Homo sapiens: one gene and its partner. The protein of the gene in region 1 purifies or fractionates together with the protein of each later gene. This does not show direct contact. Each region holds a gene or a part of one and is shown on either strand. Other genes may lie near its edges.

What was found. Proteins that work in one complex are often made in the same cells at the same time.
Region 2: the proteins of OTUB2 (region 1) and NMRAL1 purify together in Homo sapiens (affinity purification with western blotting; 2 studies listed by BioGRID, with this or other methods). This does not show direct contact.

Annotation. Positions count from the first base shown.
Region 1 is NC_000014.9:94,043,340-94,049,430, forward strand, and holds the end of OTUB2 (ubiquitin thioesterase OTUB2), read left to right. Parts: intron 1-631; coding exon 632-716; intron 717-1,246; coding exon 1,247-1,441; intron 1,442-2,376; coding exon 2,377-2,583; 3' UTR 2,584-5,591; downstream 5,592-6,091. UniProt on the Homo sapiens protein: Hydrolase that can remove conjugated ubiquitin from proteins in vitro and may therefore play an important regulatory role at the level of protein turnover by preventing degradation.
Region 2 is NC_000016.10:4,461,194-4,464,682, forward strand, and holds the end of NMRAL1 (nmrA-like family domain-containing protein 1), read right to left. Parts: intron 2,658-3,489; coding exon 2,467-2,657; coding exon of another isoform or gene 2,449-2,466; intron 2,320-2,448; coding exon of another isoform or gene 2,284-2,319; exon of another isoform or gene 2,227-2,283; intron 767-2,226; coding exon 587-766; 3' UTR 501-586; downstream 1-500. UniProt on the Homo sapiens protein: Redox sensor protein. Undergoes restructuring and subcellular redistribution in response to changes in intracellular NADPH/NADP(+) levels.

The DNA of each region.
Region 1 (6,091 bases):
GGCAGCCCTTCCTCCATACCTCGTTGCTGCCACTAAACTTGGGAGTGTCCTGGAGCCAGGGCCAGGCCCAGGCCTGGGTTTCTTGCCATACCCCCTGAGGGCACCAGGACAGGTCCCAGAAAGGGGCTGCGCCATGAGGGGGCCTGCAGTAGGTGCAGAGAGTAACAACCCAGCATGCGCAGAGCAAGGGCCTGTGGAGTGGGTCCCCAAGGGTAACTTGGTGCTGGCAGATGCTTAACAGCCGGCTGTGGGCGTGCGGGAGGCCTGATGTGTGTTGTCAGCCGATTGCTGTGGTGTCAGTATTCAATATTATCATGACTGAGTCAAGCTGCCCTCATGAGGTCACTGAGTAGGGAGTTGGAAAAGATGCAAAATCACACACGCCCTTGTCGTATCGTCTTTCCACCATGCACACACACACAATGCAGCTCAGCCACCAGGGCCCGGCAGGGCCAGGGTGGAGATGTGCACGGTGCATGTGGCTGTGTGTTGGGGGCAGGGGCGGGAGGTTCTGCGGCTGGACTAGAGATGAGGTTGGTGGGCGCAGTGGGTTGAGAGGGGGACGCACAGTTGCCAATCACAGCACTCTCGCTGTGTTTCCCTGTAAACACTCAGTCTTCCCCCTCTGTAGGTTCAAAGAACGCGTACTGCAGACCCCAAATGACCTTCTGGCTGCTGGCTTTGAGGAGCACAAGTTCAGAAACTTCTTCAATGCTGTGAGTTCACCTGGTCCCTCCTTCCACACTGGCAGAGCAGACAGGAGTGGGCACTGGCTGGAGCCCCTACACAGCCCACAGCTCTGCTCCTCCTGGCTGGGGAAGGACAGAGGGTTCCTTCCTGCTTGTGGGGGTGTGTGGGCACAGGGAGCCCTCACCCTATTCCCTCACCCTATTCCATCTCCACCTCATGCCTCCCTATCCAATTAGTGAAGGGGCGGGATCGAGGACTCTCAGACGCTTGCCACTCTGAGTGTGCACGTGAGAATCCAAACCCAGGTAGTCATGGTGGGGAGACCCAACTGCCGCTCCCAAACATGCCTCTGGACTAGTGTACAAACTGCAAAGTCTTGCTAACCCTGGGTTACTTAGCTTAGGCAGAATCTCAGACTGATTTTCTAACTCAACCTGAGAATCTACAAATGAAAATGCACGTGAGGGCTTCACGCGAAGGGAGGGAGCGGAGGGAGAATGCAGAGGGAGGGCTGGGGCTTGCTTGGCCTCCCTAGCTGAGGGCCGGGCGGGCGCAGTTTTACAGTGTGGTGGAACTGGTAGAGAAGGATGGCTCAGTGTCCAGCCTGCTGAAGGTGTTCAACGACCAGAGTGCCTCGGACCACATCGTGCAGTTCCTGCGCCTGCTCACGTCGGCCTTCATCAGGAACCGAGCAGACTTCTTCCGGCACTTCATTGATGAGGAGATGGACATCAAAGACTTCTGCACTCACGTAGGTGCTTGGGGTCTCAGCCCCAGCCCTGGGCTCTGCTCCTGTGGCCCTGTCCTGCAGACTTCAGCACCCATCCGTAGCCAAGGGACTCGGGTGTCACGACTGCCCTTGCAATTCAAACAGAGCTAGGTCAGCAAGCTGCAGACAGGTCCCACCTGAGCTGCCTGAGCTGTGTGGCCTGAGGCAAGTCACTTCCCCTCTCTGGAGATTTCCCATCTGAAAAATAAGGGATTTGGACTGGCCTGTTTACAAAACCACAGTCATAGTCCAAGAGTCACATTTGCTTGACGTGTTTATGATGCATGGTATTTACCAGAAAGAGTTGCCGATATTTAAAAATTAGGCACTTTTCATATGAATATTTGGATTTCTGCTGGAAAGTAAGAAGTACAGCCCCCAGGTCCTTGCTCTTGCAGGGCAGTCTCAGCAGGCACTAAGCAGCAGCTGCCCTCTCTATGTAGGACATACGCCTGCTTGCCACCGCCTCTGCTTCTTCCATCGTCTCTGCAGCACCCGGACTCGCACCCTCACTCACCAGCCTAGCCTCTGTAAACACTTAAGCTTGAAAGGCACCCCTGGATGACAGGGTGCCTTTTATCTCTAAGATTCTTTGATGCCCAACCTGAAAAATGTCTGCCCCCCGTTTCCAGATCCCTCTAAATTAGTAGCCTGCTGTCAGGTGTAACTACAAGGTCTAGAATGGAAAAGATTCAGGTTCGATTCTTGCAATTGTAGCGATTTCTAGCTATGCTGCCTCTCAATGAGGCTGTTTCCCGTGTGGCATGAGAACGTCCATACCCAACTCATGGGATGTTGTGAAGATGACGTCCCAGCACAGAGGCTGTGACCATGACCCTGAGAGCCAGAGCTGAACTCACTTGTCCTCTGCCAGGCCTCCCTCCTAAGCTGGCTTGTTTTCATTTTGGCCCCTGCAGGAAGTAGAGCCCATGGCCACGGAGTGTGACCACATCCAGATCACGGCGTTGTCGCAGGCCCTGAGCATTGCCCTGCAAGTGGAGTACGTGGACGAGATGGATACCGCCCTGAACCACCACGTGTTCCCTGAGGCCGCCACCCCTTCCGTTTACCTGCTCTATAAAACATCCCACTACAACATCCTTTATGCAGCCGATAAACATTGATTAATTTTAGGCCATGCAGTGGAACCTGTCACCTAATGGGACTGCATTCTGAATGGAACATTCCGGCTCTTCAATTTTTTAAGCAATTTAGACTGTAGCAAGAAAATGTGCAGCCTTTTGGGCAAAGCCCCTGGGAACGAGGCCTATCCACTATGGACTATGGTAACTTGGTAGGATTTTTAGTATTTATTTTAATGGAGGGACAAATGCTTTCTAACTGGGCCCCCGACTCCGCACCCCAGTTCGCAGTGAGGCCCTGGGTGGGTCACCTGCCCTCTCTGGACTTGTTTCTTCAACTGGAGGAGGTCCCTGCCTATGCTGACATTCCATTGTAGAAAAATGGGGCCTCTGGTGTCTCTTTACCAGGGGCAGTGCCTCTCTGCGGGGGAGGAAAAGCTCAAGGTTAGCTGTCTTAACCCAAGTGACTTACCAGGCCTACAAAAGAGTCCAGTCCAGTCACTTGTTGGACTGGGCTCTGACAGATGGCCTATTGAGGTCAACTTGAATGTGAGGGCTACGGTGTGGTTTCAAACATTCATGATGGATGTATTTTCCTACCCCTAACTTAAGGAGAAAAAAAAAAAGACTTCCTTTTTTTGCCAAAGTCCAGAAAGGGGCCTTTAGCCTTTAGTAGGAGCTCAAATTGTTGGGGCCCCTCTACCTCTCTCAGGGCTAGAACTGCCTGACTCTTGGTGGACGAGCCCTTCAGGGTTCTGCTTTCAGCCCCACCTGGACAGAGGCTTACAAGACTAGGGTCTGGACCAGAATCTGTGTATTTCTGTCTGGGACCAGGAAGCCGCAGCTGTCCCATCATCCCCAGCAAATCCTAGAAGTGGAGTCTGGATACTTCAAGGATAGAAGTGTTGGCACGCACAGCCATGGACCCAGCTGAGCAGAGCAGACGCTTTGCAGGCTGCCCCTGGCTTCTTCCTCCCTTTCCCGCTTCTGCTCTCTTTATGGACTGGTCAGAGGGTAGGTGGGAAAGAACAGACAAGCCATGGGAAGTTGGCAGTGGGGAGATTTCCACTGTGGAAACCGCCTGGGAATTCCGGCCAGCAGCTTCCTCCTTCAGCCACCTGGCCATACCCCTTAAATAAGCCCCTCACCTTGCTGCCTCAGGACCTTCAAGATTCCATCTGTGGGCTGGCCGGCAAGATGGCACCAGTGGGGACCCACACCCTGGCTGGGCAGAGGTGCTGCTAGCAACCTCTCTTCCTCTATAAGAGGAAATGGAAAATGCAGGGTGTGGAATTGCCCTTTGGGGTCCTTCCTTAATTGAAGGCCACCTTCTCACAGGTTTCATTCTGCAGGGATTTACTGGAATCTATTGGTGCTGCTGCATGAGTCTGCTGACAACCTGACTGCACAAGGACTGGGTAGCAGACTCCTCAGAGTCCTCTTGACACAAATGTCAGATTTGTGTCACTCTTCTGCCTTCGTGAAAAGCCAATAGCACTCTCAGATATCAGGGGATTTTAGTTCCAAGCAGGGACCCTGGTTTCCATACTGCCCTCAGCTGGAGTTTGGATCCAAAGGCTCTGGCTAAGTCATTATGTCACTTTTTCACAGGAATGTAAATTTGACTGTCACCTCTGAATTTGTTCAGTGTCCCACCATGGTCTATGAGAAGTACACTGGAAGCGTGGGGGGAACACATGACATGATTTGTGAATATCATCATCTTTGCCAGACAAGTCTCCAGGGGATCCCTGTTTCCCAACTGAAAGGTGTGAACGGACACACACACAGCCTGGATGACGCCTTGGCTGTTCTAAGGGGCTGTAAGGTGGGCTCTGGGCCTTCCAGCTAGGCTCTCAAGCACAGCAGAAGCCTCACTGGGCTGCTATGTCTCTGTATTTGTGGCTTGTGTGGTAGCCTCAGAAGCAGAGCTGTTTGGCAGACTGGCTGGAGAAATTCCCTCTAGGAGACTTGCCTGTGCTGTGCTTCCAGGTCACAGAGCCCCCCGGAAACTCACAGGGGCCCTCTTCCCAGAAAAGAATCTATTCTATCACTTCAGAATCAGGACACTCAAGCTCTGGCAGAGGAAGGCCAAGTTACTTTCATGGTCTTACCCTCTGCTTTTCCCCTTTTTGCAAAAAACCACTGGCCAAATCCGAACCATTGCCCTTGTTTCCCCCACGTTCTCTCTCAGATCTTTGTCTCGAAGGGAAAACATAGTGGATGAAAAGGTGTGGCAGGCTTTGGCACCTTGTTAAAATTTCTAGTCATCTGTGGATGTTACCTTGCTTGTCCACAGCAGCCAGTCACCCTGGCCAGTCCCACTTCCTGGATAATTCTCTACCCTCACCCCACAGAGCCATCTCTCTCCAGACCAAAAGCTGGAAGGAGAGTTGCTTTGAGAGCTTGTTTTTACAACTGCATGTTTATTATGATACTTTCTCTCCAAAGGAAACTTTTAAATCAATGGGAACAATTAGCAACAGAAAGAGCACAGTCCCTGCTTTTGACTGGGTTCCTATTTTAAGCACAAATGAGAGCTCTGGAGCCAGAATGCCAGGGTTCTAACTTCAGCATTCACTTACTAGCTGTATGATCTTGGCCAAGTCACTTCACCTCCCTGAGCCCCAATTCCCAAGTTTGTGAAATGGCAACAATACCTATGTGTCACTGGATTATTGGTTAAAACAGAATGAGATTCCTTGTGTGAAAATAGCTATTATACCTGACACACTCATCGTATGGGCTCTGCAAAGGGATATTCCCCAACCTGTCCTTCCTGACAGGAAGCATAGGGCACTGCAGATGGGGAAGCATGTCACCTTGGCAGTGACTCGGTGGCTTCCCAAGCAGGAGTGTCAGGGGAACCATGAGAGAGAGTCTAGGAGCAAACACATCACCACCCTGAGCAGATACAGGAGTGGGGAGGGGGCTGTAACTCAGTGAGTGGCTTCCAGGGGCCCCAGGCCCTGCTGGATGTGGGCCAAGCCCTACAGCTTCCCTAGGCAGTAAGTAAAAACATTCTCCTAGCATTAAAATGGTTTCCATAACTACTTTTGTCCTGGCTTCTTAATACTGGGTACCTGGCATGCAGCCAAGAACTCTGCTTTTCCGTGGTGCTTATGTATTAAGTAGATTAGCTGGGGAGGGATATTCCTTGTTTAATGGCAGATCCAGGACACTCCGGAAGCTCTGCCCACCAACTTCACCTTACCAGGCGAGAGTAGCACTGCTTGGAAGGCTGCTCCTGCCTTTTAAAGCCTGTCTACGTATTAGCTCCTCCACCAAGGAAAAGAATTTGCTGTTAGATGGCTAGGGCAGGACACGGACAGTCATCAGGGGATCTATGTTTGGCTTATGGCAAGTGGCTTCACTCCCACGGCTCAGGTGCCATTAGGGGATATTAAGCCCGCTTACTAACCCCACTGACCACCACTGCATCATTTGGAAAATGGAGAGTCTCCCTGCCATTCTCTGATAGCTGTCAGTCAGGAGCTGACCTCACAGACGGGCAATTTCCCCTCCTATTCCGGTCACTGGTGACACTGGG
Region 2 (3,489 bases), on another chromosome or scaffold:
AGCCTGTCTCCAGTTCACATGTGCAGATGGCCTCACTAGCTCTGGAGATGAAAGGGGTGTGTCAGAAGCTCGGCTCCTGGGGCTCCTCTGTGTCCTGTGCTATGTCCCCGTCTGTGAATGAATTTCAAATGTGGGAACAGAGGCTGCTGGTCAGAGCTGTTCTGCTAGCTGAGGTCAGAACAGGCCACTTCACACCTGTCTGACTAAACACGTTTAGGTCACTCGTCCCAGTCACCAAGTGATCCCTTCAGCCTTGGACCCTCCCTTACTGCTGTGTTGGTACAGCCCTGGAGCCACCCCTTACTGCTGTGTTGGTACAACCCCGGGTCCCCTCACTTACTGCTGTGTTGGTACAGCCCTGGACCCCCCCCCCCCGCTCCAACTTACTGCTGTGTTGGTACAGCCCCGGACCCTCCCCAACCACTTACTGTTGTGTTGGTACACAACTACCACCCCAACCCAAGTCCTGGAAGCAGAGTCCTCTTCTCCTGGAAGCCATCTGGGAGAACAATGGCTTTATTCAGATGTTGGTGCCTCTGCCCCTCTGGTGCCCCCGATCCCCACAAGGGGCCGCGAGGCGGGCAGGTCACAGCAGGTTGAAGTCCCCTTTGTGCTGTTCCAGCCACTGGTCCAGCGTCAGGGCCTTGGGGTTGAGTCTCAGGGTCAGCTCGATGTCACGGTCGGGTCTCAGGGCATAGAAACGGAACATGTTGGCCAGGTCCCGGGCACCGGGAAAGCCAAGCTTTTCGTAGTCCTCAGGAGTCATCTGGAAGCAGAGGAGCCTGTCGTGGCCGGCGTCCTCCAGTGCCCCGGGAGGTGGCGGGGCAGGGAGGCCGGATGGGCTGGGGTCTCCCGACCTGCTACACCCAGAGCCACTATTGTCTCGGTCCCTGACCCAGGTCCTCCGTACAAGGTCATTTGAAAACTTCTAAGAGCCGAAAGTTCAGAAACTGCTGCTCTCCTGAGCTGCCTGACATTGTAGATCAGTTTAAAGATTGTTCTTGGCCAGATGCTGTGGCTCATGCCCGTAATCCCTGCACTTTGGGAGGCTGAGGCAGGCAAATCTCTTGAGGCCAGGAGTTCGAGACCAGCGTGGCCAACACGATAAAACCCCGTCTCTTTCAAAAATACAAAAATTAGCCAGCCTGGTGGTAGGTGCGTGTAATCCCAGCTACTTAGGAGGCTGAGACAGGAGAATCGCTTGAAACCAGGAGGTGGAGGTTGCAGTGAGCTGAGATCACCCCACTGTACTCCAGCCTGGGCAACAAGAGTGAGACCCTGTCTCAAAAATGAATAAATAAAAAGACTATTATTTTCAGATCATGAGACGAAAATATCTCAGTCCCTTCCAAATCAGAGACCTGCCTGCATCACTTTCTTTCTCAAAAACCAAAGCTTGACCAGACACAGTGGCTCACACCTGTCATCCCAGCACTTTGGGAGGTGGAGGTGGGAGGATCGCTTGAGCCCAGGAGTTAGGCCCACCACGCCGGGCTAATTTTTTGTATTTTTAGTAGAGACGGGGTTTCACCGTGTTAGTCAGGATGGTCTCGATTTCCTGACCTTGTAATTGCCCGCCTCAGCCTCCCAAAGTGCTAGGATTACAGGTGTGAGCTACCGCGCCTGACCCAACTTTCGTCTTTTAAGGACTCCAGTGTTTCCCAGATTCTTTTTTTTTTTTGGAGTTGGAGTCTCGCTCTGTCGCCCAGTCTGGAGTGCAGTGGCATCTCGGCTCGCTGCAAACTCTGCCTCCTGAGTTCAAGCGATTCTCTTGCCTCAGCCTCCCAAGTAGCTGGGATTACAGGCGCCTGCCACCACACCCGGCTAATTTGTTTATTTTTAGTAGAGATGGGGTTTCACCCTGTTGGCCAGGCTGGTCTCAAACTCCTGACCTCAGGTGATCCACCTGCCTCGGCCTCCCAAAGTGCTGGGATTACAGGCGTGAGCTACTGCACCCAGCCTCCCAGATTCTTTAATGAGTATGTCTTACTTTCCTAATGGTAATGACAAACATTAGAAACCAGGTACCCAAGAGTCTGTCCAGTAGGCCTCCTGCCCACCCAGCCAGGCCAATGGGGGCAGGGGTCGGCCCTATCTTTCTAGCCTCTTTCCCTTTAAATCCCCTCCCACAGGGGAGGGGTCGGGTCTATCTTTCCAGACTCTTTTCTCTTCAAATTCCCTCCCACAGAGGAGCCCGGCAGGGCCTGCATTTTCACCCCTCCTTGCCTTGGCTCCTATGGCCCTCTCCTCCTGGAAGCTTTTCTCTCTATTTGGTCAAAACATCTAAGCCAGAAATTTCACTCTGTGGCCAGTTAGCTCCTGGAACAGCAGAAAATAAACGTTGACGATGAACGAATGAATTTAGATGTACTGCCCAGAGGTGTGGGCAGCCCTGGACACACCCTCCCTACGGGAGCTAGAAAGCCCTGACAAGGATGCCTGAGTCACCTGGGGCGGGAGGCCCACCTTGGCATCGTGCACGACCTTGCGGGTGTGCTTGGTGAGCAGGGCAGCGTACTCCTCGGCCGTGTGCCTGCAAGTGCTCAGCCCGATGTTCTGGCCGACGTATTTTTCTGGCATCTTCAAAAGGCTGAGCACCACAGGACCCAGGTCAGACACGGACATGCCATCCATGGGAACGTCACCTGTGGGCAAGCCTGTGGGGCAGAGACGTGAGCTGGTATATGTCCCGAGGGCAGACAGGGGCAGGGACAGAGCCCCTCTCCAAAGGGTCCAAGCTGGTTCTTCCCAGCAGTCAGCTGCACACTCCAGCACTCGGGCATAGCTAAGACAAGTCTTGCTATTTGTGGTAGCACAGAGGCAGCAGTGGAATTGAGTCAGGAAACGGGATGGAATCCGGGTACTGCCACCTAGGGCAGGCTGTTGAGGCTCTCTGAGCCTGGGTTGCTGCATTCCTAGAATGGGGCTAAGAACCTGGGCCTGCCCAGCTCTCTCAGCGCTAGGATGACAGAGAAGGGACAAAGGAAAAGGACTCTGAAAGCTGCTACAGAGAGTGTGGCTGGAGCCCAGGGTCTCCGCTAATCTGGAGGCACCAGCCTGAAGTACTCTGTCATATCCTAGATTCCTGGAAGCTGGAACGTCCACCTCTGAGTAGATACTCCAAATACCAACTCACTTACCAGGAATCCTGATTAACCAGACACCAACGGCTGGCCTAGAGCAGCACGTCCATGATAAATGCTTCATAAATCCTGAATGAATGAATGACTCGCAAACTTCCAGGCTGAGGTTTTGTAGATGGGGAGGCTGGCAACTGTCTGGGTGTGGCCTGTGGAATGCTTGGGTCCTATCCTCCTTACCTAGAGACAGGGGCCAGTGCAGCTTCCTGTTCAGATCACCTGGGAGCTCGAGGGCACAGAGCGCACAGACCGGAGCAGGAGATATCCCTGACTGCAGGTTTTTTTTTTTTTTTTTTTTTGAGATGGAGTCTCGCTCTGTCGCCCAGGCTGGAGTGCAGTGGCGCAATCT